Regions from separate parts of the Homo sapiens genome. Here region 1 is linked to region 2. Evidence: fine-mapped expression QTL. A gene starts in region 2. The other region holds a variant in brackets. All regions are shown on one strand. Distances are between the middles of the regions. Region 1 overlaps SMIM14 (small integral membrane protein 14). Region 2 holds the start of UGDH (UDP-glucose 6-dehydrogenase).

Region 1 (4,392 bases), 78 kb before region 2:
TTCCATTCTGGGAGTTGTCTTTTCACTCTTTCGTTTATCTTTTATAGCATTTATCAGTTTGTATTTATAATTTAAAAAACATTTAGATTAGTATCTGTGTCTACTACTGGAATGTGAACACCATTAGGGTAAGAACTATCAGTTTTTGCTTACTTTAAATTTCTTTTTTATTTTTACAGAGATGAGGTCTCACTATGTTGCTCAGGCTATTCTTGAACTCCTGAGCTCAAGTGATCCTCTTGCCTCAGCCTCCCAAACTACTAGGATTACAGGTGTGAGCCACCATGCTCAGCCTACTTTTAAATTTCTAATAGGCTTAGCATAAGCACTAAATATTTTTGAGTGAATTTATGTTAATCACTCAATTTTTAATTTTAAGTTAATTTATGAATTGTTTTATTGATCTGCCTATTCCACCTTTTAACCAGAATGGTTTTCCATGGCTAATGCTGTATATAAGCATAATTTTACTCGTTATTGAGATATAATTGATAAACAATAAACTATGCACATTTAAATATACAATTTGATAAGTTTTGATGGATGTGTCCACAATTCACATATATTAGACCATTTGAAGTTGTCCCACAGCTCACTAATGGCCTATGTATGTTTTTGTTTATTTTTTTCAGAGATGGGTTCTCACTGTGTTGCTCAGGCTGGCCTTGAACTCTTGGGCTCAAATGGTCCTCCTGCCCCAACCACCCAAGTGGCTGGGACTACTGGTTTATCCACCCCTTTTTCTATTATTTCATTTTTGATAGCTACTGTTATTATGTCTTCAAGTTCAGTAATCTTTTCTTCTGTAATGTCTCCTATGCTGTTAAACCCATCTGGTGTATTTTTCATTTCGGACACTATTGTTTTTATCTCTACCAGTCCAGTTGGATGATTTTACTATCTTTAATGTCTCTCCTTAATATAGTCATTCTTCTAGTTTCTTCTCCCCAACTTAGGGATACCACTGGGCTCTGGTCTGGGTTTTCCCACCACATACTTGGAACTAGAGTCTCCTCGAGGCAGTAAACTGGGCCAGTGATAGGGCTCATCTCATTTGTTTTTCCGTCTCTCAGGTGTCACTATTCTTTGTAGCCTCATGTTCAATGTCTTTTTTTTTTTTTTTTTTTGAGACGGAGTCTTGCTCTGTCGCCAGGCTGGAGTGCAGTGGCGCGATCTTGGCTCACTGCAACATCTGCCTCCCGGATTCAAGCGATTCTCCTGTCTCAGCCTCCTGAGTAGCTGGGACTACAAGCACACGCCACCACGCTTGGCTAATTTTTGTATTTTTAGTAGAGACGGGGTTTCACCATGTTGGCCAGGATGGCCTCTATCTCCTGACCTTGTGATCCACCCACCTCGGCCTCCCAAAGTGCTGGGATTACAGGTGTGAGCCACCACACTCAGCCCTTTTTTTTTTTTTTTAAACATGAACTCACTGTGTTGCCCAGGCTGGAATGCAGTGGCGTGATCATGGCTTATTGCAGCCTTGACTGCCAGGGCTCAAGCAATCCTCCCACCTCAGCCTTCTGAGTAGCTGGGACCACAGGTTTGTGCCACCATGCCCAGCTAATTTTTAAATTATTTGTAGAGGTGAGGTCTCACTAGGTTGCCCAGGCTGGTCTCAAACTCCTGGGCTCAAGTGATCCTCCCGCCTCAGCCTCCCAAAGTGCTGGGATTACAGGAGTAAGCCAGTGCGCCTGGCCTTAATATCTTAAAAACAATTGTTTCTGGCCGGGCACGGTGGCTCACACTTGTAATCCTAGCACTTTGGGAGGCCGAGGTGGGCAGATCACCTGAGGTCAGGAGTTCAAGACCAGCCTGGCCAACATGGCAAAACCCCATCTCTACTAAAAATATGAAAAGTAGCCGGGCGTGGTGCATGCCTGTAATCCCAGCTACTCCGGAAGCTGAGGCAGGAGAATCTCTTGAACCCAGGAGGCGGAGGTTGCAGTGAGCTGAGATCGTATCACTGCACTCCAGCCTGGGCGACAGAGCGAGACTCTGTCTAAAAACAAAACAAAACAACAGCAAAAAACAATTGTTTCATGTATTTTGTCTAATTTTTAAAAAATTGTTTTAGGCAGAACAGTAAAT[C/G]TGGTTGCCAATACTCCATCTTGACCTCTCATTTGTTTCTCTTTATTTTTTGAAATCTACCTAGCTATTTTTTAGCTATGTCATTAATTTCCCCCCATAAACCTTGGTATCATTTTAGATACCTTTTCAGATGTCTTTCTTGGTGAGGGTAAAGGCTGGTTTAAATTATTTGCATACTGGAGCTAATAAAGTCAAATAATTGAGTAATTAAGCAGAGTAGGTTCTAGCATCTTCAGCATCACAGGTGGGGCCAGTTTAGAGCATTGAAGACATTTGTATTTATGGGCTGATGGCAGAAGGGGTAGCCAATCACCTGTATAGATTCATAATTCATATAAGATTAATAATAAATTAATAGATACAAGTCAATAAATACAAACTATACATAGTTTAATACTATTGTGAATGTAATCAATATCAGAATTTTTCATAGCTCAAGAGAAAGAGTAATTCTGAATTGTAGACTTAACAGTATTTTTTCCTTCCTCCTAGATTTAAACAGTCAAGTAAAATCAAGCTGGGTAATCATGGCAGAAGGTGGATTTGATCCCTGTGAATGTGTTTGCTCTCATGAACATGCAATGAGAAGACTGATCAATCTGGTGAGATGCAACAGGACAATCCTATTCTGAACTGATCTGTATCCCTTGTATCCTCTTTTCATGAAAATACTGGTTATTGGAGGGTTTTCATCTGATGGTCACTAAAGAGTATTTCATAATTGAAATTCCACATTTGTTTAAGTTGTAATGATTAAAATGTGACCGGGCACAGTGGCTCACACCTGTAATCCCAGCACTTTGGGAGGCCAAGGTGGGCGGATCACTTGAACTCAGGAGTTCGAGACCAGTTTGGCCAACAAAGCAAAACCCCATCTCTACTAAAAATATAAAAATTTGCCAGGCGTGGTGGCACACACTTTTAATCCCAGCTACTCGGAAGGCTGAGACACGAGAATTGCTTGAACCCAGGAGGCAGAGATTGTTGTGAGCCGAGATCATGCCACTGCACTCTAGCCTGGGCGACAGAACAAGACTCTGTCTCAAAAAAAAAAAAGTTTGCTAGCAATTATTTCATTAGAGATGAAAACAGACTACCGTCTTTATTATTGTTATTATTATTATTATTATTATTTTGAGATGGAGTCTCGCTCTGTTGCACAGGCTGGAGTGTAGTGGTGCTATCTCGGCTCACTACAGCCTCCACCTCCTGAGTTCAAGCGATTCTCCTGCCTCAGCCTCCCGAGTAACTGGGACTACAGGAGTGTGCCACCACGCCTGGCTAATATTTGCATTTTTAGTAGAGACTGGGTTTCACCATGTTGCCCAGGCTGGTCTCAAACTCCTGACCTCAAGTGTTCTGCCCACCTTAGCCCCCCAAAGTGCTGGGAATGCAGGTGTGATCCACCTCCCCAGCCCAGACTACTGTCTTTATGGTAGATTTATGTTGGTGACATTTGCCATCATGGGTAGATAACACATATGTATATTGCCTTTTCTACTTTATATCAATACAAATAAAATTGTTTTTAGCTGTGTGGAGCTTGTTTGCCTGCTAAGCTGCTATTGACAGTTCCTGTTATGATATAGTTCATATCCTACACCAACATATGGCATGACAATACGAATCTCTATGTAAAGCATTTCTTTTTTTTTTTTTTTTGAGACAGTGTCTCACTCTGCCACCCAGGCTGGAATGCGGTGGTGCGATCTCGGCTCACTGCAACCTCCACCTCCTGGGTTCAAGTGATTCTCCTGCCTCAACTTTGCAAGTAGCTGGGATTGCAGGTGCGCACCACCATGCCCAGCTAATTTTTGTATTTTTAGTAGAGACGGGGTTTCACCTTGTTGGTCAGGCTGGTCTCAAACTCCTGACCTCAGGTGATCTGCCAACCTCGGTCCCCGAAAGTGCTGGGATTACAGGCGTGAACCACTGCGCCTGGCCTATGTAAAGCATTTCTGAAAACAAATCAATTATTTGACAGAGGTAGATTTCTGAACAACAAGATTTGAATAGTCTCATTGAGTCGATTGTAGTGAGTCTATAAGCTTAAATACAGGGCTGTTTATATTATACTTTATTATTGTTATTATTATTTTTTATTTATTGTTTTTGAGATGGAGTCTCGCTCTGTCACCCAGGCTGGAGTGCAGTGGCGCGATCTTGGCTCATTGCAAGCTCCGCCTCCCAGGTTCACGCCATTCTCCTGCCTCAGCCTCCCAAGTGGCTGGGACTACAGGTGCCCGCCCCCATGCCCAGCTAATTTTTTGTATTTTTTAGTAGAAATGGGGTTTCACC
Region 2 (4,346 bases):
TTTTTCATGTGGATTGTAACTATTGGTATTTACCATATTAGAAATGAAAACTGATAAATTATATATAAAAGATTAATTCCTTAAAATTGACAATAAGCCCATTACATGTTAACATAAATATCATATTTTAATGAAAAATTACTATATTTTAAAAACAAAAGATAAGATTGGCATTGTTTTACATTTTTGTAAATCTCTAATATCTGACTTAAAAAACAGCTTAATTCTATTTGCTTTGATAGCACATTATAGTCTCCACAAAACTTCATTGTACACTTCTGAGAGAACAAGAGTGAAAAAAGCAAGTAACACATGAAAACTTTTTGACCTCATGGATCCCAGAAAGAACCTCGGAGATTGTCTACAGTCCCCAGCTCACATTTGGAGAACCTCTGTCCTAAATCCAAAGGTCCATTCTAGCTGGCACTGAAAATTGACTTAATTTCTGAAATCCTATTAACCGTTTTGAAGAGTCTGATTCTACCAAAATACTAAAAAAGAATGTGAGGTGAATACTAAATAGAAAAATGTTGAATTCAAAATGAAGGGACTAAGATAAGTGGTTTTTATTACAAAGCAAACTGTATTAGATAACTTAAATCTATGTATGTTCAAAAAGATGTACTTGTCATATCTAGTGCAATTACTTGTTTACATATCTCTTCTACCCAACCTGTGAGCTTTGCAAGAAGGAAATGAGTCTTTTTTGTTTGGTTATTTTTCTGAGACAGTGTCTCGTTCTGTTCCCCAGGCTGCAGGGCAGTGGTGTGATCTCGGCTCACTGCAACAGGGAGCCTCCTGAGCAGCTGGGATTACAGGTGCCCACCGCCTCACCCGGCTAACTTTTTGTATTTTTAGTGGAGCCGGGGTTTCACCATGTTGGCCAGGCTGGTCTGGAACTCCTGACCTCAGGTGATCCGCCCGCTATGGCCTCCCAAAGTGCTGGGATTACAGGCGTAAACCACCGTGCCTGGCCAAAGGAATTGAGTCTTAATCCCTTTTGCATCTTCAGTCTTTAGGATAACGTCTGACACACAACAGGCATTAAATATTTGTTGGATGAATGAACTGAACTGCATAGAATGCAGAAAGCCTACATATACTGGCCAGGCACAGTGGCTCACACCTGTAATCCCAGCACTTTGGGAGGCCGAGACGGGCGGATCACCTGAGGTCAGGAGTTTGAGACCAGCCTGGTCAACATAGCAAAACCCGGTCTCTATTAAAAATATAAAAATTAGCCGGGCATGGTTGTGGGCGCCTGTAATCCCAGCTACTCGGGAGGCTGAGGCAGGAGAATCGTTTGAATCTGGAAGGAGGAGGTTGAGGTGAGCCGAGATCGCACCACTGCACTCCAGCCTCGGCGACAAGAGGGAGACTCCGTCTCAAAACAACCAACCAACAAGCCTACATATCCTGCCACACGTGCTACAATCCACAGCAAACTGTTTCATCCACATTCAACCACTTTCTTAAAGTCACCATCATGATCCTATCAAGAAAACCGTAATTTATATGGTATTTTAATGTGCCTTTATAAATTACTAATCACTTTCTTCATGATGTATGTTAAAATGGCTTATGTCACCTGATGTAATCCTTAATGAGGGAAATAAAAGGCCATGATTATGCCTGGCTTTTTTTCTTATATGTTAGATTTGAGTGTTAAAATGACCTCGAAGCGGCGAAAGAAAGGAACGGAACTGCCCTCCACATTAAAAATGAGCAGGCTCCATAGGTTAATTTTACTCTTCCTCACGCACGGCACTTACATGTTGCAAACTCTCTGCTCCACAGCACGCACAGACATCCCAAATCCCGGATTGGGCCTGAGGAACATCTCTGCAAAGAGCGCCAGGAGGGCGTGGGGGTCCCGCCTCTCTCGCCAGGGACCAGGGAGTGGACACTCACTGGTCCAGTCATGAGGAACTCAGCATCCTCCTGACGGGAGGCGCCTCTTTCCCAGAAGCGGTGGGTCAGGAGGAATCTGACTAAACCCTGGGTTGCCGGCCCGGAGGGCGCGGTTGACCCCGGGGCCTCGAGGTTGTGGGCGAGGAGTAATCCGCCCGCCGAGACCGACCCGCAGATCCAGGAGACCGAAACCCGAGGGCGGCGCTCCAGGGTGCTGAGGAGACCGGAAAGGCGGCCAGGACCTTCCGGTCGCCTCGGCCCACCACCCACCCAGTGTCCGCGCAGCCCTAAAGCCTGGCAGACGCGGAGCGCACGCGGCCTTTGCCTCGGCCAGGACAGGGCAGCGGGGAGAGGGCTGCTAGACAACAATTCTTGACCCCTCCTCGACCCACGACCGCCAGGTAGGCGCGCAAAGCTCCTACACCTGCGGCGCGCCCCCGTCCCCTGGTCCAGCGGACACGCCACGCACGCAGCCCCGCCCAGCGCCGCTCGCGGTAGGGGCGGAGCCGCTGAGCTGGCCAAAGCGGATTTGCCCAGCTAGGCCAGGGGCGGGGCAGGCCCTCCCAGCCAGGACCAGCCCCAGTCTCCCCGCCCCTGAGCCGTGAAGGAAATAGGGACCTGGCCCTGGGCCTTGTGTAGCGGGAGGGGGAGCTAGGAAGCAGCTGAGGGCAGAATCCAGGAGGGCCTGGCTGCGGGGGAATGAAGCCTCCGCCTTCGCAGGCAAAAGCCTTTAAATACGGGCTCAGGCCCGGGACTCAGAGTGTAACGCGTGGCAGCCTGAGGGAGGGGCGTGCGCCGAGAGGGAGCTCAGATCGAGCGGGGCGCGGGTGGAGAAGCTGCGGCGGCGCGGCCCGTAGGAAGGTGCTGTCCGAACGATCGGGATAGGAGCGGTCCCTGCGCTTGCTGCTGGGAAGTGGGTAAGCGCCGCTCCCAGGCTGGCCCCGCCGCCCGGGCGGGATGCTCCCAGGTCTGGGCGGGATGTGGAGGGAGCGGGGCTGGGGTGTGCGCGCTGCTCCCGGTCGCTCGCTGCGCTGGGTCCCGGGCTTCCCGTCTCACGACCTTCGTCTCTTTGGGGCTTAGGGCGGGAACCGCATTTTGGAACTGCTGTCCTGGGGATGTGGTCGTCTGGGCTTCTTATTCAAGACTCGTGAGTCTTCCAGCCCCTTCTCTTTCTGCCTTTACCCACTTTCCTGACTTGGATGAGATTTCCCTGCCGCCTCCAAAGCCGAACGCCCACCACAGGAAGCGGTTCTCTCGTTGGGGACCTCATTTTGGCCGCAGAGTCGTAGTCTTTTGTTTGTGTTTAAGAGTCTGCTCACCTGAGGGGCTCCTGCTTTTCTCATGCCGCCCCTCTTAAGAAACCAAAGAGAAACGAAGCCAGAAAGCCCTCTTGAGAGCAAAATACTAAGACTGCCGTGATATCTGTCCGGGATGTCCTGGAATCCATTGTTGGCCCCCTACACCACAGAATTGCTCTGTTTGATGTCGGGGAAGGCCTTTCCTGGGTGCCTCGGGAGACCATGTTTGTGTGAGATCTTGAAAAATTATACGTCCTATAAATATATAGGAAGATAACTTAGTAGGGTTAGGAATTCTAGTATAGAGAAAAGAGGGGTTCGCTGGTAGGGATCTATTCATGGGCATACAGAGCAGTAGCTGTCTATCGACAGACCTCAAAGACACAGTGAGCCTTTGAGTTTCTTCAAATCCCTTAAGAAATGGAGAACAGTAGTCTTTCTTCAGGGGGGTTCTGGAAATGAAAGAGCTGACTGTCTGCTCTGAGATGTGCTTATTAGTGGCCAGGATCCAGTTTAAGGTAAGGGGTAGACAACCCTGATTGAAAAGATCTCATTTCTTCTCCCGTTGCTGTACTCCTTTTTCTAACAAAATCTATAACTGGATAAGCATAATCCATCTTCCTTCTTGTTTACTTCCACAGCTTTACATGATAACCCTTAGACATAAAATTAATACCGGCTTTCTTACTGATTAAATATTTTTCTCTGGTCAGGCATCTTTTACTGTTTAATTTCTGGAAATGATTAAAATGTGTGAAGCTGATGTATCCAACTATAATGCCCATCGTTAGCTCCTGGGTACCTATGCAAAATATGCTGTAGAGAGCTGGGGCTAGAAGGATTATATTCCGTTTAGATTGTAGTAGGGCATTTGTTATTTGTTAGTGACCCCTTCTGGGTTGGAATGTTTATTTGAATTTATGAAATTTTACATGAAGAGTAGTTTTGGAACGGTTTGGTTTGTTGTGACTCTCCCAAAATACAGAGGTAAAAACTCATTTCAAAATAACCCATTTAATAAGGAAACACTCCTATGTCTCTGACAGCAGAATAGAGGGCCAGAGGGTACATAAAAGTAGAAATAGAAAATGGGGGCCGGGCGTGGTGGCTCACGCCTGTAATCCCAGCACTTTGGGA

The links. PIP is the estimated chance that this variant, and not a neighbour inherited with it, causes the effect.
Region 1: its variant is the best candidate, but not a certain one, in a credible set for the expression of UGDH in whole blood (TOPMed, PIP 0.63).

Annotation. Positions count from the first base shown.
Region 1 is chr4:39,603,375-39,607,766 of GRCh38, reverse strand. It overlaps SMIM14 (small integral membrane protein 14), which reads left to right. Exons shown (of 5, transcript NM_174921.3): 2 at 2,587-2,696. The coding sequence starts at 2,622. Among named protein-coding and RNA genes, the nearest start is that of SMIM14, 33 kb to the left of the region's middle. The variant C/G (reference allele first, on the strand shown) is at 2,095.
Region 2 is chr4:39,525,765-39,530,110 of GRCh38, reverse strand. It overlaps UGDH (UDP-glucose 6-dehydrogenase), which reads left to right and starts at 2,672. Exons shown (of 12, transcript NM_003359.4): 1 at 2,672-2,828. UGDH-AS1 (UGDH antisense RNA 1) reads right to left here and starts at 2,272. Exons shown (of 5, transcript NR_047679.1): 1 at 1,773-2,272. RefSeq lists an enhancer at 1,788-1,847 and silencers at 2,228-2,527, 2,778-2,957.